2 separate regions of the Homo sapiens genome follow, and region 2 is linked to region 1. A link means that fine-mapping ties the variant in region 1 to the plasma level of a protein whose gene starts in the linked region. Region 1 holds a variant in brackets. A gene starts in the other region. All regions are shown on their reverse strands. Region 1 has its middle 10 kb from the start of PRR14. Region 2 holds the start of SIT1 (signaling threshold regulating transmembrane adaptor 1).

What was found. PIP is the chance, under the fine-mapping model, that this variant and not a neighbour inherited with it causes the effect. The UK Biobank Pharma Proteomics Project read protein levels with antibody pairs (Olink). The fine-mapping took linkage between variants from a reference panel, not from the people measured, so its PIPs are less certain.
Region 2: SIT1 starts here. The variant in region 1 is fine-mapped to the plasma level of the SIT1 protein (UK Biobank, PIP 0.96).

The regions. Positions count from the first base shown.
Region 1 is chr16:30,632,715-30,648,952 of GRCh38, reverse strand. No RefSeq gene overlaps it. Among named protein-coding and RNA genes, the nearest start is that of PRR14, 10 kb to the left of the region's middle. RefSeq lists enhancers at 13,585-14,535, 14,536-15,487. The variant T/AT (reference allele first, on the strand shown) is at 7,650.
Region 2 is chr9:35,650,664-35,657,553 of GRCh38, reverse strand. It overlaps SIT1 (signaling threshold regulating transmembrane adaptor 1), which reads left to right and starts at 6,623. Exons shown (of 5, transcript NM_014450.3): 1 at 6,623-6,800. The coding sequence starts at 6,701. RefSeq lists an enhancer at 1-498 and a silencer at 6,843-6,890.

The DNA.
Region 1 (16,238 bases):
CAGGGCTGGCAGTATGGGTGCCTGAGGAGGTACAGTGATGTTTCATCCAGCTGTGAGTGCTTGGAGATTCTTTCAACCTTGCCAAATTAAGACCTAAACCCCACAGGTGCTTTTCAGGCCCCAGGGCAGGAAAAACTTTCAAAAGCAGAGCAGGCCTAACCTGAGTTTTTAGGTATTTTTTGTTTGTTTGTTTTTTGTTTTTGAGACGCTCTGTCGCCCAGGCTGGAGTGCAGTGGCGCCATCTCAGCTCACTACAACCTCCGCCTCCTGGGTTCAAGCGATTCTCGTGCCTCAGCCTCCCAAGTATCTGGGACGACAGGTGCTCACCACCACGGCCGGCTAGTTTTTTGTATTTTTAGTAGAGACGGGGTTTCGCCATGTTGGCCAAGCTGGTCTCGAACTCCTGGCCTCAAGTGATCTGCCCGCCTCGGCCTCCCAAATTGCTGGGATTATAGGCATGAGCCACCACACCTGGCCCTAATCTGAGTTTTGATTCTCTAGGTCTCTTGAAGTCAATGACACCAAGGGTAAAAGATGTAGTCCAAAGAAAAGTCCTGGACCTGAGTATTTGGTAGGAAGAGCCCACCAGTGTGACCCTAACTTGGGGTGCTAGAGTTCATCAAATGGAAGTCTAAGGTAGACTGTGGCAGTCTTGGCCCTTAGCCCAGGCCAGCAAATGTGAGCCCTCATGATCTTGCGGTCTCACCTCTGCTCTTTTTGTGACTTCCCATTTCAACAACTTTACTTTGCCCACTGCCTACACAGGTGGTGGACACACTGTGGGGTGTACCACAGTGTATGCTGATGCATTAGCAAGAGGGCCCCACACAGCCTCCAGTGGGGCTGCTGGTGTGGCCGTGGGTGCACTTCAGTGTGTCATTATTCAGAAACTCAGGGTCCGTTTAGACTCTGGGCGGCCCATCTTTCTTTTTTCTTTTCTTAGACAAGGTCTTGGTCTGTCACCCAGGCTGGAGTGCAGTGGTGTGATCATGGCTCACTGTAGCCTTGACCTCCTGGGCTCAAGTGATCCTCCCACCTCAGCCTCCCAAGTAGCTGGGACTATAGGTGTCCGCCACCACGCCCGGCTAATTTTTTGTATTTTTAGTAGAGATGGGGTTTCACTGTGTTAGCCAGGATGGTCTCGATCTCCTGACCTCGTGATCCGCCCACCTCGGCCTCCCCAAGTGTTGGGATTACAGGCGTGAGCCACCGCGCCTGGCCTGGACCCTTTAAATATATATATATATTTAAATTTTTTTTACCAGCCAGCATCATGCTAAGTTTTGTCAATAGATGGCTGGAGAGACATTGCAGGAAGAAAGAGTTTTGCTTCCCAGTTCAGCAAACCCTCCTGGGAGGCTCCTGCAGCACAAGTGGGTTCCCAGCTCCCTGCTTCTGCAGGGCAGGGTGGCCAGCAGAACCCCAGGGTCAGCAGCTCCCCCAGGTGCCCTCTGGATGGTTTTGCAGTGGAGTTCCTCTGTGGAGACACCTGCCCATGAACAGCTTTCCCTGGCACCCAAGAGGGTGGATTTCCAGCAAGTTCCACCAGACTGACACTCCAGCAACTACTGTACTTCAGCGACTTCTGTACTTCTGTGCCCTCTCCAAAAACTTGTGGATCTCAGGAAGGAAGGAGGTCTGTCTTTCTTTCTTTCTTTCTTTTCTTTCTTTCTTTCTTTCTTTCTTTCTTTCTTTCTTTCTTTCTTTCTTTCTTTCTTTCTTTCTTTCTTTCTCTTTCTTTCTTTCCTTCCTTCCTTCCTTCCTTTCCTTCCTTCCTTCCTTCTTTCTTTTTCCTTCCTTCCTTCCTTCCTTCCTTCCTTCCTTCCTTCCTTCCTTCCTTCCTTCTCTCTCTCTCTCTTTCTTTCTTTCGACAGGGTCTCACTCTGTCACCCAGACTGGAGTGTGGTGGCTCACCACAACCTCCGCCTCCCAGGCTCAAGCGATTCTGCCTTAGCCTCCCAAGTAGCTGGGATTACGGGCACATGCCACCATGCCTGTCTAATTTTTGTATTTTTAGTAGAGATGGGGTTTCACCATGTTGACCAGGCTGGTCTCAAACTCCTGACCTCAAATGATCCACCCGCTATGGCCTCCCAAAGTGCTGGGGTTACAGGCATGAGCCACCGCGCCTGGCCAGAAGGAGCCTTTTTCTTGTATGCTCTGTCTCCGCCTGAGAGGAGCTGTGGCTGCTCCTTGTATTAGGTTGGTGCAAAAATAACTGTGGTTTTTGTCATTAAAAGTAATGGCAAAACCGCAATTACTTTTGCACCAACCTAATATCTGCTCTTCTTGCATTTTTTTTTTTAGAATTCTGTTTACTTCTTATTATCTGTAGTGGGCAGAATTTTGTCTCCCCACCTCCCCCCCACCCCACCAAAGATATTTTCAAATCTTGAACCTTTCACTTCCTCTGAATCTGACCTTATTTTGTTGTTGTTGTTGTTGTTGTTGTTGTTGCTGTTGTTGTTTGACACAGGATCTTGCTCTGTTACCCAGGCTGCAGTGCAGTGGCTGGATCTTGGCTCACTGCAGCCCTGACCCCCTGGGTTCAAGCAGTCCTCCTGCCTCAGCCTCCCGAGTAGCTGGGACCACAGTCACATACCTCCACACCCTGCTAATTTTTATTTTTATTTATTTATTTTTTTGAGATGGAATCTCGCTCTGTCACCAGGCTGGAGTGCAATGGCGCGATCTCGCCTCACTGCAACCTCCACCTGCAGGGTTCAAGTGATTCTCCTGCCTCAGCCTCCCAAGTAGCTGGGACTACAGGTATGTGCCACCGTGCCCAGCTAATTTTTGTATTTTTAGTACAGACAGGGTTTCATCATGTTGGCCAGGATGGTCTCAATCTCTTGACCTCGTGATCCACCTGCCTTGGCCTCCCAAAGTAATTTTTAATTTTTTTTTTTAGTATAGACAAGGTCTCACTATGTGGCCGAGGCTGGTCTTGAACTCCTGAGCTCAAGCAATGCTCCCGCCTTGGCCTCCCAAAGTGCTGGGATTACAGGAATGATCCACCACGCCCAGCCATGACCTTATTAGGAAATAGAGTCTGCAGATGTAATCAAGATCATACTGGATTAGGATGGGCGGTAATATAATGACTGGTGTCCTTGCAAGAAGAGGGAAATTTGGACACAGACACATAGAAAGGAGAATGTTATGTGAAGACAGGCACAGACGTACAGAGGGAGAATGCCATGTAGCAATGGAGGCAGGAATTGGAGTGTGGCATCTGCAAGCCAAGGAATGCCAAAGATTGTCGGCAGCCACCAAAAGCTTGGAAAAGGCAAGGAAGGATTCTTGCGAGGCGGGGTGGCTCACACCTGTCATCCCAGCACTTTGGGAGGCTGAGGTGGGAGGATTGCTTGAAGCAAAGAGTTTGAGACCAGCCTGGGCAACAAAGCGAGACCCCATCTCTCCAAAAAAAGTAAAATAAATTAGCGGGGCATGGTGGTGCATGCCTGTAGTCCCAGCACTTTGGGAGGCAGAGGTGGGAGAATCACTTGAGCTCAGAAGTTTGAGGCTGCAGTGAGCTATGACTTGCATTCCAGTCTGGGAGGTGGGGTGAAGCTGAGCCCTCTTGAATGAATCTGTGGTAATTTGTTATGTCAGTTTTAGAAAAATAATACACAATCTAATCATTTCTCTAATCCTCTGTTATTGTTATATTATTATTATTTTTTTTGAGATGGAGTCTCACTCTGTCACCCAGGCTGGAGTGCAGTAGCATGATCTCAGCTCACTGCAACCTCTGCCGCCTGGGTTCAAGAGATTCTCCTGCCTCAGGCTCCCGAGTAGCTGGGACTACAGGTGCCTGCCACCACCATGCCCAGCTAATTTTTTGTATTTTTAGTAGAGATGTGTTTTCACCGTGTTAGCCAGGATGGTCTCGATCTCCTGAACTCGTGATCTGCCCGCCTCGGCCTCCCAGAGTGCTTGGATTACAGGCATGAGCCACTGCACTTGGCTATTGTTGATTTTTTTAAAATATTAAACCTTTCCTTGTTCAAATTACCATGTGGTTTCTCTGTCTTGATTTGACCCAGACTTAATCATCACCAACAAATGTAGGTACTAGTGTTTCAGCATTAAATAAAATGGAATATCTGAATTTTGAAAGTCCCCACTTGCAATTACTGTGCAGATATTTTAGAGGATGGGCCATTTGCAGGAGAGGTGTAAAGTCTGCATTGCAGACATAATCCTTAAAGTCGTTTTGAATGCTGCTGTCACACCTGAAAAAAAAAAAAAAAAGAAAATGAGCACTGATGGTGCCTCTGAGGACAGATGGCTCAGATGAAGTGGAGGAAGCTGGGCTGGGCAGCTGCCAGCTTGTCTAAAGGTGATTCCTGGCATCCTATACTTTCATGTGGAGGCCAGATCTAGGCAACATTCAGAAAGCGAGTCCAGCCGGGGATGGTGGCCTGCAACTGGAGTCCCAGCTACTCCAGAGGCTGAGGCAGGAGGATCACTTGAGCCCGGTAGGTCAAGGCTGCAATGAGCTGTTTATGGAGCCACTGAACTCCAGCCTGGGCAACAGAGTGAGACCCTGTCTCTAAAAAAAAAAAAAAAAATTTCCAGATAGAGGTGTCTGGAGATCAATACTCATGGCTAGAGTGGCAATGCTGAGGCATTGAGGTCTAAGAGACAGAAAACAGATTCACACCACTGTGACCTTTGCTCTAGAGAAAGAGGAAGGCCTAAACATGGGACAGTCAAGGTTTTTGTGGGGGCAGGAGGGCTCTAAATATGGGCTGAGGTGTCTATTTATTTGTTCAGTACATTTGTTGAACTCCAGCAATGAGCCAGACACAAAAACACTATGGTGGACAAGACAGTGAGCGTCCTTGTCTTCAGAGACAATGAAATAGACCAACACGATGAGATAAATGCTCAACTCAACTTATGTACAGGTTCCCAAAAGGGCACATTGCAGAGCTACAGGAGAATGCTTCCCAGAGAAGGTGATGAACAATGTGACTTTAAGGAAAGGGAGTTGGGAAGGAAGACTGTGCATCAGTCATCACTGCAAGTGCAGAGATCCAGGGGCAGAAATTGAGGAGAATGTAGATAATTTGGTTGTCAGCCCATCAGAGCTAACACATGCCTTTTTTTTCTTGAGACAGAGTCTGGCTTGGTCACCCAGGCTGGGTGCATTGGCGTGATCATAGCTCACTGTAGCCTTGACCTCCCAGGCTCAAGTGATCCTGCCACCTCAGCCTCCCAAGTAGCTAACACTACAGGCACATGCCACCACACCCGGGTAATTAAGAAACAATTTTTGGGCTGGGTGCGGTGGCTTATGCCTGTAATGCCAACACTTTGGGAGGCTGAGGTGGGCAGATCATTTGAGGTCAGGAGTTCAAGACCAGCCTGGCCAACATGGCAAAACCCCGTCTCTAACAAAAATACAAAAAATTAGCCCAGTGTGGTGGCTCGAGCCTGTAATCCTAGCTACTTGGGAGGCTGAGGCAGGAGAATGCTTGAACCCGGGAGGTGGAGGTTGCAGTGAGCTGAGATCATGCCACTGCACTCCAGCCTGCCCGAAAGAGCAAGACTCTGCCTTAAAAAAAAAAAGAAAAAAAAGAAAAATTTTTATAGAGATAAGGGTGGTCTCGCTATGTTGCCCAGGCTAGTCTTGAACTCCTGGGCTCAAGTGATCCTCCTGCCTCAGCCTCCCAAAGCTCTGGGATTACAGGTGTGAGCCACTGGGCCTGGCCACACGTCTTAAAAAAAAAAAAAGTTTTTTTTGTTTGTTTGTTTTGTTTTTTCTTTTTTGAGACAGAGTCTCGCTCTGTCACCAGGCTGGAGTGCAGTGGCACAATCTCGGGTCACTGCAACCTCCGCCTCCTGGATTCAAGCAATTCCCCTGCCTCAGCCTCCGGAGTAGCTGGGACTATAGGCACGTGCCACCATGCCCAGCTAATTTTTTGTATTTTAGTAGAGACGGGGTTTCACCATGTTGGCCAGGCTGGTCTCAATCTCCTGACCTCGTGATCTGCCCACCTCGGCCTCCCAAACTGCTGGGATTACAGGCATGAGCCACTGTGCCCGGCCAAAAAAAAAAAAAAAAGTTTTGAACACTCCTTTTACTCTGATGAAATTAATGAATAGATAAATAAAACATCTATAATACTACTTTTAAAAGTCAATATAGGCTGGACACATTGGCTCATGCCTGTAATCCCAGCACTTTGGAAGGCCAAGGCAAGCAGATCACCTGAAGTTGGGAGTTTGAGACCAGCCTGGCCAACATGGCAAAACTGCGTCTCTACTAAAAATACAAAAAATTAGCTGGGCATGGTGGTGTGCACCTGTAATCCCAGCTACTCAGGAGGCTAAGGTGTGAGAATTGCTTGAACTGGGGAGGCAGAGGTTGCAGTGGGCCAAGATCGTGCTGCTGCAGTCCAGCCTAGACTCTGTCTCAAAAATAAATAAATAAATAAATAAATAAATAAATAAATAAATAAATAAATATTACAGGCTGGGCGCGGTGGCTCACGCCTGTAATCCCAGCACTTTGGGAGGCCGAGATGGGTGGATCACCTGAGGTTGGGAGTTTGAGACCAGCCTGACCAACATGGAGAAACCCCGTCTCTACTAAAAGTACAAAATTAGCTGGATGTTGTGGCACATGCTTGTAATCCCAGCTACTCGGGAGGCTGAGGCAGGAGAATCACTTGAACCCGGAAGGCGGAAGCTGCAGTGAGCCGAGATCGCACCATTGCACTCCAGCCTGAGCAATAAGACCGGAACGCCATCTCAAAAAATAAAAAAATAAATAAATAAAAATAAAATAAAAAATAAATGTTACAACTACACGGTGGGCATGGTGGCTCACAACTGTAACCCCAGCTACTTGGGAGGCTGTGATGGGAGGATTGTTTGAAGCCAGGAGTTCAAGACTCCCATCTCTAACAGAAAATAAAGAAAAATAAATTGAACTAGTGGTTACTCTTGTGGTAGGGTAGTAACTAGGAGGGACATGAGCCTTTAGGATGCTACAGATGTTTTGTTTTGCTTTGTAGAGACAGGGTCTCTGCTGGAGAGAAGTAGAGTAAAGAAAAAAAAAAGGAGGGAGGGTCTTGCTCAGTTGCCCAGGCTTGAGTGCAGTGTTGCGATCATGGCTCACTGCAACCTTGAACTCCTGAGCTCAAGCAATCCTCCCACCTCAGCCTCCTAAGTAGCTGGGACTACAGGTGTGAACCCCCATGCCCAGCTAAATATATATGTATATATTTTTTGTTTTGTTTTGTTTTTGTAGAGAGGGGGTCTCACTCTGTTGTCCAGGCTCCTCTTGAACTCCTGGCCTCACCCATTCCTCCCCAGCCTCAGCTCCCAAAGGGCTGGGACTGTAGTCATGAGCCACCACACCCAGCCAATGTTTTGGTTTCTTGATATGGGTACTGGTTTCTTGATATGGGTGTGTTTACTTTGTGACAATGCATTGAGCCTACACTTAGGGTTTGTGCACTTTTCTGTATTACATTATTCTTTAAAAAATTTTTTAAATACGCTGGGAGCAGTGGCTCACGCCTGTAATCCCAGCATTTTGGGAGGCTGAGGCAGGCAGACTGCTTGAGTTCAGGAGTTTGAGACCAGCCTGGGCAATATGGCATAACCCTGTCTCTAAAAAAAAAAAAAAA[T/AT]TAGCCAGGAATGGTGGTGTGAGCCTGTAGTCCCAGCAACTCCGGAGGCTGAGGTGGGAGGATGGCTTAAGCCCAGGAGGCAGAGGTTGCAGTGAGCTGAGATGCCACGACTGCAATCCAGCCTGGGCAACAGAGCCAGAACCTGTCTCTCTCTCTCTCTCTCTCTCTCTCTCTATATATATATATTTTGGCTGGGCGCAGTGGTTCATGCCTGTAATCCCAGCACTTTGGGAGGCCGAGGCAGGTGGATCACGAGGTCAGGAGTTCAAGACCAGCCTGGCCAATATGGTGAAACACCATCTCTACTAAAAATACAAAAATTAGCTGGGCATAGTGGTGCATGCCTGTAGTCCCAGCTACTCAGGAGGCTGAGGGAGGAGAATCTCTTGAACCTAGAAGCGGAGGTTGCAGTGAGCTGAGATTGCACCACTGCACTCCAGCCTAGGCAACAGAGCAAGACTACATCTCAAAAAAATAAAAATTTAAGTAATGTATATGTCAGTATGTAATGCTTGGGTAGGGCTTTGCTAGGAGATTTGGTGAAGTTGTCATATTGAAGTTGTCATATGCTTGTACCCCCCATTTTTTCCCCACTACCTTTTTCTTCCAATTAAGCTGAGCTTCCCTGAGTCCTGAATAATCCTTTCACCTCCCAATCCCTGCAGATCCCGCCTCAGATGCTGAACCTTGTGCTCTAATTCCGTGGCCTGAAAGCAGTGGCTCTCCTCAGGGGCAGTGCCACCCCTTAGGGGTTGTTTTGTGAATTTTTAGGAGGGGGTGTTTTGGTCGCAGTGAGTGATGGAGGACCTCTGGCATTAATGGGTTAACCCATGGGGATCAGTTGTGTCCTACACAGTGCCAGACAGTCTCACTTAGTGAAAAACTGTCCCTCCTCCACCATCATTTGCAGAATGCCCCATGGCCATCCATGTACATGAGAACAGGTTAATAACTGAGTAGAGAATCTAAATTCATTTTTTATATAAACACGAACATATACGCATGGTTTTAATCCTGACTTTTCATGATTACAGGTGCACACCAGCATGCTCAGCTAATTTTTGTATTTTTAGTAGAGACAGGTTTCATCATGTTGGCCAGGCTGGTCTTGAACTCCTGACCTCAAGTGATCCACCTGCCTCACCTCCCAAAGTGCTGGGATTATAGGCATGACCACCACGTCCAGCCCTAATTTTTATTTTAAGAGACAGGGTCTTGCTCTGTTGCTCAGGCTGGAGTGCAACGGTGCAGGCATGGCTCACTGCAGCCTCTAGCCACTGGGCTCAAGCGATCCTCCCGCCTAAGCCTCCTGAGTAGTTGGGACTACAGGCACGCACTGCCACGCTCAGCTAAGTTTTTATGTTTTAATTTTTTGTAGAGACAGGGTCTTGTTTTGTTACCCAGGTTATCTTGATCTCTTGGACCCCAGCAGTCCTACCACTTCGGCCTCCCAAAGTGCTGGTATTATAGGCATGAGCACCTGACTCTGTTTTCTTGTTTTATTTATTTATTTTTTTTGAGACAGGGTGTCACTCTTTTGCCTAGGCTGGAGTGCAGGGGCACAATCTCACCTCATTGCAACCTCTGCCTCCCAGGCTCAAGGGATCCTCCCACCTCCACCTCCCAAGTAACCGGGACTACAGGCGCACACCACCATGCTAGGACAATTTTTTATTTTTTGAGAAGGAGTCTTGCTCTGTTGCCCAGGCTGGAGTGCAGTGGTGCAATCTTGGCTCACTGCAACCTCTGTTTCCTGGGTTCAACCAATTCTCCTGCCTCAGCCTCCCGAGTAGCTGGGATTACAGGCACCTGCCACCACACCCTGATAATTTTTGCTTTTCTTTTTTTTTGAGATGGAATCTCACTCTGTTGCCCAGGCTGGAGTGCAGTGGCATGATCTTGGCTCATTGCAACCTCTGCCTCCCAGGTTCAAACAATTCTCTGCCTCAGCCTCCCAAGTACTGGGATTACAGGTGGCTGCCACCACACCCAGCTAATTTTTGTATTTTTAGTAGAGACGGGGTTTCACCATATTGGTCAGGCTGGTCTTCAACTCCTGACCTCGTGATCCACCCGCCTCGGCCTCCCAAAGTGCTGGGATTACAGGCATAAGCCACCGCATCCGGCTGCTAGGACAATTTTTTATTTATTTATTTTTGTTGTTGTTGAAACAGAGTCTTGCTCTGTCGCCCAGGCTAGAGTGCAGTGGTGTGATCTCGGCTCACTGCACCCTCTGCCTCCTGGGTTCCAGCAATTCTCCTGCCTCAGCCTCCTAGGTAGCTGGGATTACAGGCGCCTGCCACCACATCTGGCTAATTTTTGTATTATTTTATTTCATTTTATTTTGTAGAGGCGGGGTTTCGCCATGTTGGCCAGGCTGCTCTCAAACTCCTGTCCTCAGGTGATCCTCCCGCCTCAGCCTCCCAAAGTGCTGGGATTACCAGCGTGAGCCACTGCGCCGGTCCGTTGTTGTTGTTGTTGTTGTTGTTGTTGTTGAGACAGAGTTTTGCTCTTGTCATCCAGGCTGGAGTGCAATAGTGCCATCTCAACTCACTGCAACCTCCGCCTCCCAGGTTCAAGTGATTCTCCTGCCTCAGCCTCCCCAGTAGCTGGGATTACAGGTGCCCACCACCATGCCCGGCTAATTTTTGTATTTTTAGTAGAGATGGGGTTTCACCATGTTGGCCAGGCTGGTCTCGAACTCCTGACCTCAGATGATCTGCCTTCCTGGGCCTCTCAAAGTGCTGGGATTACAGGCGTGAGCCACTGTGCCTGGCCTCAGAATGAACATTTTTAAATAAAATAACTGATTTATCCTAATCTACCAGTACATAATGGACTCTCAGGACTGGCAGGGAAAAGCATGGAAAGGAAGGACTCAGATAACACCCATGTTTTGGGACATTAGGTCTAATATTGCTAGTAACAGGAGGGAAGTCTAATTGAGTAGTCAGTGAAAGTTTCTAGGAAAAATAAACTCATAACCCAATAATCATGTGAAAATATTTAGCAGCCATTTAGATGTGTTGGCCTAGAAGGGGGTTACTCAACCTCAGAGCAATTAATATTTTGGACCAGATAATTCCTGTGAAGAGCTGTCCTGTGCATTGTAGGATGTAGTATTAATAGCAGCATCCCTAGCCTCTACCCACTAGATGTCAGTAGCACCTACGTCTCCTCCCTGTCTTTCTGCCCATTTGTGACAAACAAAAATGTCTCCAGACATTGCCAAATGCCCTCTAGGAGCAGTCACCCCCAGTTGGGAATCACTGGCCTACAGTATATTGAAACCAAGGCAAAGAGGGTGGAGGCTTGAACCTTGGGGAAATATATTTTATTTATTTATTATTATTATTATTATTATTATTTTTTGAGATGGAGTCTTGCTCTGTCGCCCAGGCTAGAGTGCAGTGGCACGATCTCGGCTCACTGCAAGCTCCGCCTCCCAGGTTCATGCCATTCTCCTGCCTCAGCCTCCTGAGCAGCTGGGACTACAGGCACCCGCCACCACACCCAGCTAATTTTTTGTATTTTTAATAGAGACGGGGTTTCACCGTGTTAGTCAGGATGGTCTTGATCTCCTGACCTTGTGATCTGCCCGCCTCGGCCTCCCAAAGTGCTGGGATTACAGGCTTGAGCCACCGCGCCCGGCCTTACTATTATGTTTTTTTGCGATGGAGTTTCACTCTTGTTGCCCAGGCTGGAGTGCAATGGTGCGATCTTGGCTCACTGCAAGCTCTACCTCCTGGGTTCAAGTGATTCTCCTGCCTCAGCCTCCTGAGTAGCTGGGATTACAGGCGGATGCCACCACGCCCGGCTAATTTTTTTTTTTTTTTTTTAGAGTTTCGCTGTTGTCCAGGCTGGAGTGCAATGGCACGATCTCAGCTCACTGCAACTTCCGCCTTCCCAGTTTAAGCGATTCTCCTGCCTCAGCCTCCTGAGTAGCTGGGATTACAGGCACCTGCCACCACGCCCAGCTAATTTTTTGTATTTAGTAGAGAAGGGGTTTCACCATTTTGGCTAGGCTGGTCTCCAACTCCTGACCTCAGGTGATCTACCCACCTTAGCCTCCCAAAGCGCTGGATTATGGACATGAGCCAATGCGCCTGGGCAGAAATGTGGTTTTTTTTTTTTTTTTTTTGAGACTGAGTCTCACTCTATCACCCAGGCTGGAGTGCAGTGGTGCGATCTCAGCTTGCTGCAACCTCTGTCTCCTGGGTTCAAGCTATTCTCGTGCCTCAGCCGCCTGAGCAGCTGGAATTACAGGTTCACACAACCACACCCAGCTAATTTTTGTATTTTTAGTACAGATGGGGTTTCATCATGTTGGCCAAGCTGGTCTTGAAGTCCTGACCTCAAGTGATTGGCCCGCCTTGGACTCCCAACGTGCTGGGATTACAGGCATAAGCCACCGCACCTGGCCAGAAATGTACTTTTAAAATGAAGGGTGGCCGGATGCAGTGGCTCACTCCTGTAATCCCAGCACTTTAGGAGGCTGAGGCATGAAGATTGCTTGAAACAGGAGTTCGAGACCAGACTGGACAACACAGTGAGGCCCCGTTTCTGGGCACACTTGTGATTTCAGGCACAAGTCACCACGTGGGGGCTTCATCTAATTATTACCTCTGTATATTTTCCATGGTTTCCCATCTTTTACCTCTTTCATTACTACTGCATTTGTTTAGATTCTATCATCCTTGAAGGTCCAGCTGCAACAGCAGCCCCACCCATGCGTCGAAGCCTTCTGAGGTCTTTCCTTCTTCTGAGCTTCTAGGGCATCTTTTACTGTCCCTTCTGCCCTCCAATTGTGCCACCACCAGCCTGGCCAACATGGCGAAACGCCACCTGCTAAAAATACAAAAATTAGCCGGGTGTGGTGGCACATGCCTGTAATCCCAGCTACTCAGGAGGCTGAGGCAGGAGAATTGCTTTAGCTCTGGGAGGCGGAGGCTGTAGTAAGCTGAAATAGTGCCACTGCACTCTAGCCTGGATGACAGAGACTCTGTCTCTAAATAAATAAATAAATAAATAAGCAGGGCTCGGTGGCTCACACTTGTACTCCCAGCACTTTGGGAGGCTGAGGTGGGTGGATCACCTGAAGTCAGGAATTCGAGACTAGCCCGGCCAACATGGTGAAACCCTGTCTCTACTAAAAATACAAAAATTAGCCAAGCATGGTAGTGCGCACCTGTAATCCCAGCTACACGGGAAGCTGAAGCAGGAGAATCGCTTGAACCTGGGAGGCAGAGGTTGTAGTGAGCTGAGATCGCATCATTGCACTCCAGCCTAGGCAACAAGAGCGAGACTCCATCTCAAAACAAACAAAACAAACAAACAAACAAAATGCTGCTCACCTCAGAGGACTAGATGGAGAATTTTTTTTTTTTTGAGTCGGAGTTTTGTTCTTGTTGCCCAGGCTGGAGTATAATGGTGCGATCTCAGCTCACTGCAACCTCTGCCTCCCGGGTTCAAGCGATTCTCCTGCCTCAGCCTCCCGAGTAAGTGGGATTACAGGCATGCGTCACCACGCCCGGCTAATTTTGTATTTTTAGTAGAGACGGGGTTTCACAATGTTGGTCGGGCTGGTCTTGAACTCCTCACCTCAGGTGATCCGCCCGCCTCAGACTCCCAGAGTGCTGGGATTACAGGTGTGAACCACCGTGCCCTGCCTGGATGGGGATAGTTTTGTAAACTATAGAGTGCCCCCAATTTTTAGTAAAGTTACAAAGAATTTTCACACATTTTGAGTTTTATGGAGCTAGAATGCACATCACAAATACACCTATTTGAAGTGTACAATTCAATTTTTGTGCTAGCATGAAAATTTTAGTGCACTTTCATGACCACAAAAAGAAACTGCATATTCATTAGCATTCACTCCCCATTCCCCCTAGTCCTTCTTTTTTTCCCTGGGCCATAGCGTCTGGCCAATGAAACGGATTTTTGTGCTAGCGCGGCCACAATCAGTACTAGTACATTTTCATCACCCCAGAAAGAACCTCTGTATTTATTAGCATTCACTCCCCTTTCCCCGAGTCCTTCTATAGATTTGTGTATTCTAGATATTTCATATTTTATAAAACACCTTCACACATTTTTACTTGACTTCCAGGATTTTTCTTTTCTCTCTTTTTTTTTTTTGAGACAGAATTCCGCTCTTGTTGCCCAGGCTGGAGTGCAATGGCGCGATCTCGGCTCACCACAACCTCTGCCTCCCGGGTTAAAGCGATTCTCCTGCCTCAGCCTCCAGAGTAGCTGGGATTACAGGCATGCGCCACTACGCCCGGCTAATTTAGTAGAGACGGGGTTTCTCCATGTTGGTCAGGTTGGTCTCGAAGTGTGATCCGCTCAAAGTGCTGGGATTACAGGCGTGAGCCACCGTGCCCAGTCCAGGAGGATTTTTCTTTGTAAGAACCTTTTACAATGATCTGTGGGGGTCCATCCCTCCTATTTTACAGGAGAAAATAGACGGTTATCTAGGCTTTGTGAGTGCCAAGTTCGCACGCGGCTTTCGACTCCGTGGCTACATTGTCGGGCCGGGATTTCGCGATTTCGAGGAGGGATGCTCGGCCTCCTCCTACTAGCGTGGTTGGGGCCTCGGCCAGGGCCGAGTTCCGCGGGGGAGAGCCCCAGGGTTCTGCCACCGCACCGTTGACCTAGAATGCACGTGGGGACAGCCAAAGGTCCAGTCTCCAGTCTCGGAACCCGCGGGCCCCCGAACACGTCTGCCTGCTTGGTCTTCTTTGAACCCAAGTCCCACCGCCCACCAGGATCCTAATGACGCCGGCCTGGGGAACTCCCACGCACGCGCCGTTCAAACGCCCCGCCCTCCGCGGCCCAATCACCGCACACCTTGTTTGGACGTTCGACCAGAAGCGTCCTATCAGCGAGCGCGATCCTAGAGACTGACCAGGATCCGTGACGCCCGTTCGGGTGGGCAGTGCCAGTGCGCTGAAGGGCAAGCCTCAGGGGAAGCTTGTTCCTTATTTAGTAAGATTAGCTTGACTAAGGGAGCGAAGGGCGTCACACTGCTTTTGGAAACAGGTGGTGAGGCTGGCGTCGCCATGTTTTCTAAGGGACTTTCTCAGGATCAGATCCAAGAGTGGTCCTTTAGGGCTTTTTTTTTTTTTTTTTGAGACGTTGTCTCGCCCTGTCACCCAGGCTGGAGTGCAGTGGCGCGATCTCGGCTCAGTGCAACTTCCGTCTCTCGGGTTCAAGCAATTCTCCTGCCTCAGCCTCCAGGGTAACTGCGATTACAGGCTCCCGCCACCACGCCAGGCTAATTTTTGTATTTTAAGTAGAGACGGGATTTCACCATATTGGCCAGGCTGGTCTTGAACCCCTGACTTCCAGTGATCCGCCAACCTCAGCCTCCCAAAGGGGCTTTTAAATGTAAGGGCCGCGCAGGGGCTCCGGGTAGGGCATGAAAGGTTGGGAGGGGCCCTAGCCATTGTCTTTTTTGTTATTGTTAAGGCTGACTTTTTTTAGGCTGTCGCCCATTCTAGAATGCAGCGGCGTGATCTTGGCTCACTGCAGCCTCGACTTCCCTGGCTCAAGTGATCCTCCCACCTCAGCCTCCCGAGTTGCTGGGACCACAGGTGCCACACCGCGCCCGCTTAATTTTTTTTTCTTTATATATATTTTTTTGTAGTGACGGGGTTTCGAACTCCAGGACTCAACGGAGCCTCCCATCTCAGACTCTGGGTGAGATTATAGGCGTTAACCATGACTCCCTACCCAGTATAAACTCAAACACACCAGGCGCAGCAGCTCACGCCTGTAATCCCAGCACTTTGGGAGGTGAAGGCAGGTGGATCACCTGAAGTCAGGAGTTCGAGACCAGCCTGGCCAACATGGCGAAATCCCGTCTCTACTAACAATAACAAAAATTAGCTGGGCGTGGTGGCAGGCGCCTGTAATACCAGAGATTCAGGAGGCTGAGGCAGGAGAATCGCTTGAACCCAGGAGGTGGAGGTTGCAGCCAGCCAAGATCGTGCCATTGCACTCCAGCTGGGGCAACAAGAGTGAAACTCTGTCTCAAAAAAACAAAAACAAAAGCAAATAAAATATTGCTGGGCGCGGTGGCTCACACCTGTAATCCCAGCAGTTTGGGAGGCCAAGGCGGGCGGATCACTTGAGGTCAGGAGTTTGAAACCAGCCTGGCCAACATGGTAAAAACCTTTTCTCTACTAAAAATACAAAAAAATTAGCCCAGCGTGGCAGTGGATGCCTGTAATCCCAGCTACTTGGGAGGCTGAGACAGGAGAATCCCTTGAACTCGGGAGGTGGAGGTTGCAGTGAGCCGAGATCATGCCATTGCACTCCAGCCCGGGCGACAGAGCGAGACTTTGTCTCAAAAAAAATAAAAAAATAAAAAAACCAAACATTTAAAAAATAAAAAACCAAACGAGGCTGGGCACGGTGGCTCATGCCTCTAATCCCAGCACTTTGGGAGGCTCAGGCAGGCAGATCACTTGAGGCCAGGAGTTGGAGACCAGCCTGGCCAACATGGTGAAACCCTGTTTCTACTAAAAATACAAAAATTAGCTAGGCATGGTCATGGGAGCCTCTAATCCCACAGGCTGAGGC
Region 2 (6,890 bases), not on the chromosome of region 1:
CCTCGCCCTCCCAAAGTGCTGGGATTACAGGCGTGACACCGCGCCCGGTCAACGCGGCTGCTTTTCATGCGCGGGCAGCTTTACGCTGTTCTTGGCCTTGCTATGAAGTCCTTGTGCTCATTACTCCAAATATGGAGCATTCCTGAAACAGCCTCCTCTTCTACCTCCCTCTCCCTTTGGCAAACGCCATAGTAGCCACCATTCACTGTGTAGCTGGTACACAACATATGGACTCTGCTTGGGCTAGAATCCTGCCTCCTGTACTCAAGAGCGGTGACCTTGTGAAACTTAGTTCTCTCTCCGTGCCTTCCTTTCCACTCTGAGGAATGAAGATAAGCACTTACTTCAAGAGCTATGATGATTAAATGGGATCACTCAAGTTAGAACCGTGCCTACTTATTAGTGATTTTTTTTTTTTTGGAACGGCGGGTCGCTCTCTTGCCCAGGCTGGTCTTAAACTCCTGGGATCCTCCCGCTTCAGCCTCCCGGGTAGTTGACATTACAGGCACGTGCCACCCCGACGGACTCTAGTGATTTTTTAACTTGAGCAGCTACTACTGTAAGCCAGACAGTTGAAATTACACTGACTCTCCCTGACATGCCGCTGCATTCCCTTTCTGCATACTGGGTTCTACACGACCTTCAGTTCTCAGCTCAAGTGTGTTCCCATCATTCGGAACCCTTAATTCAACTTCTAATTTATTCTTTAGTGCCGCTATTTCACTTTCTTCAATACCACTAGACAAGCAGTCCCCAACCTTTTTGGCATCAGGGACCGGTTTCGTGGAAGACAATTTTTCCATGGACGAAGCGGGGTGGAGGGATGGTTTCCGGATGAAACTGTTCCACTTCAGATCGTCAAGCATTAGATTCTCACGAGGAGCGTGCAACCTAGATCCCTCCCATGCACAGTTCACAATATGGTTCGCGCTCCTATGAGAATCTAATGCCGTGCTCATCTGACAGGAGGCGGAGCTCAGGCGGTAATGATTGCTGGCCCCACTGCCCACATCCTGCTATGTGGCCCGGAGCCTAACAGGCCACAGGCTGGTGCTGGCCTGTGGCCGGGTGTTGGAGACCCTTGAGCTAGGCTGGTCCTAAATTCCACAAGGGCAGGAGCCACCTCTCTTTTTTCTTTACCATTTTACTCCCAGAGCCTAGCACAGCACGTGGCGCCTGGCGATAGCAGGCACTCAATGAATCGTTGTTGAATGAAATTAATGAATGGTTAAAATGACCCAAAAGGGTAATATAGTTAAGCTCTTTCAAAGAATGAGGCAACTGCAATTCAGCAAGGTTAAGTATGCTACTAATCAGGTAAGAGGCAGGGTGGTGATTTCACCAGTTTTTTGCCTGTCTCTATACCTTCTGTCGAACAGCCTTTCCCCATCCTTGTCTTCCATGACTTCACCAGGCAGGCAGGTATTCCTTCTGTTCCACAGAGCCTTCCATGGTCTCTTAATTGGGATACACTGGGTCATCTGTCTAGTTAGATCAAGAGCTCCCTGACATGAAACCATTTCCATTCATCACATTTTTATCTCCAGAGCCTGGCATACAAACAGGCAATCAGTACATCATGTGTGTTAAATAAATGAATGAAGCCAAGATCGGTGGCTTATGCCTCTAATCCCAGCACTTTGGGAGGCCGAGGCAGGAGGATCACCTGAGGTCAAGAGTTTGAGACCAGCCTGGCCAACATGGCTAAATCTCGTCTCTATTAAAAATAGAAAAATTAGCCGGGTGTGGTGGCGGGCGCCTGCAGTCCCAGCTATTTGGGAGGCTGAGACAGGAGAATCACGGGAACCTGGGAGGTGGAGGTTGCAGTAAGCCGAAATCGTGCCACTGCACTCCAGCCTGGGCAAACGAGTGAGACACCGCCTCAGAAAAACAAAACAAAAACAAAAATTAACCAGGTGTGGTGGCCAGCACCTGTAATCCCAGCTATTCAGGAGGCCGAGGCATAAGAATAGCTTCAACCTGGGAGGCGGAGGTTGCAGTGAACAGAGATCGCGCCACTGCACTCCAGCCTCAGTGTCAGAGCAAGACTCCATCTCTAAATAAATAAATAAATAAATAAATAAATAAATAAATAAATGAAATATGGGTGTGTCTTCTTGTTTTTCCTGAAAGGAGGAGGAAGGGCAGGACAGGGAGAAACCCTCACCAAGGGGAGTTATCATAGTGTAGTTCAAGGGTCCCCAACACTATTGGTCCATGGCCTGTTAGGAACTGGGCCGCACAGCAGGAGGTGAGCAGCGGAGGAGCAAGGGTGAGCGGCGGAGTAGCGAGGGAAGCTTCATCTGTATATACAGCCACTCTCCATCCTGGCATTACCGCCTGAGCTCTGTCTCCTGTCAGATCAGTGCAGTGTTAGATTCTCATAGGGCCACGAACCCTATTGTGAATTGTGCATGCACGTGATGTTGTGGGCTCCTTATGAAAATCTAGGCCAGGTGCAGTGGCTGATGCCTGTAATCCCAGCACTTTGGGAAGCCAAGGTGGGTGGATCTCTTGAGGCCAGGAGTTCAAGACCAGCCTGGACAATATGGTTAAAAAAAAAAAAAAGTCTCTAATAAAAATACAAAAATTAGCTGCGCATGGTGGCGCATGCCTGTAATCCTAGCTACTTGGGAGGCTGAGGCATAAGAATTGCTTGAACCCAGGAGGCGAGGTTGCAGTGAGCCAAGATTGCACCACTGCACTCCAGCCTGGGTGACAGAGCGAGACCCTGTCAAAAAAACAAAACAGAACAAAAAAACCACAATACCTGATGATCTGAGGTGGAACAGTTTTATCCCAAAACCATCCCCTCCTCCCATACTCCTGTGCATGGAAAAATTGTCTCCCACAAAACCTGTCCCTGGTGCCAAAACGGCTGGGGACCAGTGGTCTAGCTGATGACCCAGTGACAGCCTGGGTACGCAAAGCAGGGTAATAGAAATCTTGAATCTAAGCCAGTTGGCACAGTCGGTGTAAATAAGGGGTTCAGGCCAGATATAATAATGATAAGTGGTCCCCAACTGATTATTGCCTTTAGAGAACTCAGGGCACTATTGCCAGATCTTTTTTTGAAGGAATCAACAAATTAGAATTTTAAAAATTTGAAATCTCCCAATTTTTAACTGTTGACAAGGAATCAGTGGCATACTTAGCATATTTGACACCAAGTGGTCTTTGTGTGTGTGTGTGTGTGTGTGTGTGTGTGTGTGTGTGTGTGAGAGAGAGAGAGAGAGACAGGGTCTCCCTCTGCTGCCCAGTCAGGAGTGCAGTGGTGAGACCATGGCTCACTGCAGCCCCAAATTTCTTGGATCAGCCTCCTGAGTACCTGGGACTGCAGGTGCACACCACCATGCCCAGCTAATTTGTGTGTTTTTTTGTTGTTGTTTTTTGTTTGTTTGTTTGTTTGTTTTTTGTAGAGACCAGGGTATTGCCCAGGCTGGTCTTGAACTTCTGGCCTCAAGGAATCTGCCTGCCTCAGCCTCCCAAAGTACTGGGATTACAAGTGTGAGCCACCTTGCCTGTTCCGGATCATTTAAAAAACATTTTTCTTTCTTTTCTGTCTTTTTTTTTTTTTTTTTTTGAGACAAGCTCTCACTCTGTTGCCCAGGCTGGAGTGGTGCAGTGGCACAATCATGGCTTACTGCTGCCTCTATCTCCCAGGCTCAAGCAATCTTCCCACTTCAGCCTCTTAAGTAGCTGTGACTACAGGCACACATGCCCCCATGCCTCGCTAATTTTTTAATTTTTTGCAGAGATGGGAATCTCACTATGTTGGTTAGGCTGGTCTCAAACTCTTGGGCCCAAGCTATCCTCCCACCTCAGCCTCTCAAAGTGCTGTGATTACAGGTGTGAGCCATCACACCTGGCCCAAATTTTTCTTTCTTTCTTTTTTTTTTTTTTTTTGAGATGGAGTCTTGCTCTGTCGCCCAGGCTGCAGTGCAGTGGAGTGATCTTGGCTCACTGCAGCCTCCACCTCCTGGGTTTAAGCAATTCTTGTGCCTCAGCCTCCAGAGTAGCTGGGATTACAGGTACCTGCCACCATGCCCGGCTAATTTTTGTATTTTTAGTAGAGACGAGGTTTCACCATGTTGACCAGGCTGCTCTCAAACTCCTGACCTCAGGTGATCCACCCACCTCAGCATCCCAAAGTGCTGGGATTACAGGCGTGAGCCACCATGCCCAGACCCAAATTTTTCTTGTTTTCTTTCTTTTTTTGGGGGTGGGGGGCAGGGTCTCACTCTGTTGCCCAGGCTGGAGTGCAGAGGCTTGATCTTGGCTCACTGAAACCTCTACCTCCTAGGCTCAAGCAATCCTCCCACCTCAGCCTCTCGAGTAGCTGGGACCACAGGCGTGCACCATCACACCTGGCTAATTTTTTGTATTTTTGGTAAAGACGGGGTTTTGCCATGTTGCCCAAGCTGTTCTTGAACTCCTGGGCTCAAGCGATCCTCTTGCCTCACCCTCCCAACGTGCTGGAATTGCAGGCATGAGCCACCATGCCTGGAACAAAGTTTTATTTTTCAAGTGGATCATTTAAAAAAATGCTTTATGGCCAGGCACGCCACTTCTCTCCAGCCTGGGCAAGTGAGCCGAGATTGTGCCACTGCGGTCTGGTCTGAGCGACAGAGGGAGACTCCATCTCAGATAAATAAATAAATAAAATTAAAACAAATTTAAACATTCTTTATATGACAAAATTATTCTCAATGGCAATTATAAAATGAATAATAAGGGCCAAGAAATAAACTCAGTGAATATTTTCTTTCCTTGAACTTTGTAAATATAATCATGTCAGCATAAAAACAGCCATGCATTGCTTAACAACAGGGATATGTTCTGAGAAATGAGTCACTAGGCAATTTTGTCATTGTGCAAACATCATAGAGTGTATTTTCACAAACCTAGATGGTGTAGCCTATTACCCATCTAGGCTACATGGTATAGCCTGGTGCTCCTAGGCCCCAATGCTTACAGCATGTTACCATACTGAATACTGTAGGCAGTTGTAAGACAATGGTATTTGTGCATCTACTGTAGAGACAGGGTCTCTCCGTCTGTCGCCCAGGCTGGAGTGCAGTGGCATAATCATAGCTCCCTGCAGCCTCCAACTCCTGGGCTCAAGTGATCCTCCCACCTCAGTCTCCCAAGTAGCTAGGACTACACGCTTGTGTCATCAGGCCTGTCTACTGTTTTTGTTTGTTTTTTGGTAGAGATGGAGGGTCTCACTATATTGCTCAGACTGGTTTTGAACTCCTGGCCTCAAGCAATCCTCCTGCTGCCTTGGCCTCCAAAGTGCTGGTATTACAGGAATGAGCCACTGCACCTGGTCCACTACAGCAATTTAAAAGTTAGATCTGGGCTGGGCGCAGTGGCTCATGCCTGTAATTCCAGCACTTTGGGAGACCGAGGTGGGCAGGTTGCTTGAGGTCAGGAGTTGAGACCAGCCTGGCAACACAGGGAGACCTATCTCTACAAAAAATGAACTAGATTAGCTGGGTGTGGTGGCACATGCCTGTAGTCCTAGCTGCTTAGGTGGCTGAGATGGGAGGATCACTTGAGCCCGGGAGATCGTCAAGGCTGCAGTGAGCTGAGATTGTGTTACTGCACTCCAACCTGGGAGACAAAGTAAGACCCTGTCTCAAAAAAAATATAAAACTTAGATCCATAAAATATTTTTCAGGGAGGATAATTTTATCACTGATTTTTTTTTTCAGAATTTCTGGAACATGGTGATAATAAGAGGACTGATTTTTATTTTTTAAATTCTCTACAGACAATGCACCCCCTTATTGCCTGCAACTCAAGGGGCAGGACTTCTGCCATCCCTATTGTTGGCATGCCACTGCACTGATTTTAAACTTTTAAAAAATGTTGTATGGGCTAGACAAAACACATCTCTGACTTCTGGTCTCAGGTTTATATTTGCAACTTAAAATCCCTCTTCCTACATCAATAGCCTTGCACGTGATGGAGTTAGCTCTAGGTATGGCAGGTACTACACCCGCTGAAGTGAACATGTGCAAGATAGGGCTCAGTTTCCCAGGACAGTCCTACAGCAAAGAGTTTTAAAATGCAATTAATTATTGAGAGTGACAGTTCTTACAGACAGTTTGGATGAAGTGGGTTGAAAGGGGAGGTTTGGGGGTGTCCCCCAAATTATAATGCCCCCAATGAAACAATAACAAGCATCATCTAAACACATATCCTCTCAGATCAGCCTTAGGGTGTGATGGGATCAGAGGTACCAGGAGGCTCCCCCGACCCTTCCACTTTATACCATACTCATTGAGGAATACATCTTTCTTCTGGGACCAGAGTCAGGGAGGAAGGTGGGCATCCTGGAGCAGAAGGGGTGTTCCTGTCCTTGTTAGTCCTGCTTCACACCACTTCTGCCCCCACCCCCCGCCCTCAGAGTCCTCAGGGACTCAACTGCCCGTGGCACATTACCCACAGGCCTGCTTCTCTTCTCAAGGGGGGCAAAGGGCCTGGGCAGCGAGGGTGGGGGAAGCTCAGGAGCTGCAGGAGTGGCGCAGGTGCAGGCACAGGGCGGGGTCTTTGTTCTTTTTTTCATCCCTCCCCTCCCCCTTCCTCCCCGGAAACCAGAGACTTTGCCACCACCAGTATTGGGGATGCTGAGCTGCGGGGTACGGGCCTGAGGAGGGATGGGAGTAAGAAGTGCTGTGGAAACCGTCAGGCCATGAACCAGGCTGACCCTCGGCTCAGAGCAGTGTGCTTGTGGACTCTCACATCTGCAGCCATGAGCAGAGGCGACAACTGCACGGATCTACTCGCACTGGGTGAGCTGGGCAGGGCAGGGGCTGGTGGGGGAGGGGTCATGTGGCCCCAGGTCCCACCTGCTGGGCCCTGGGGGTGGGGCGGGGCTGTTA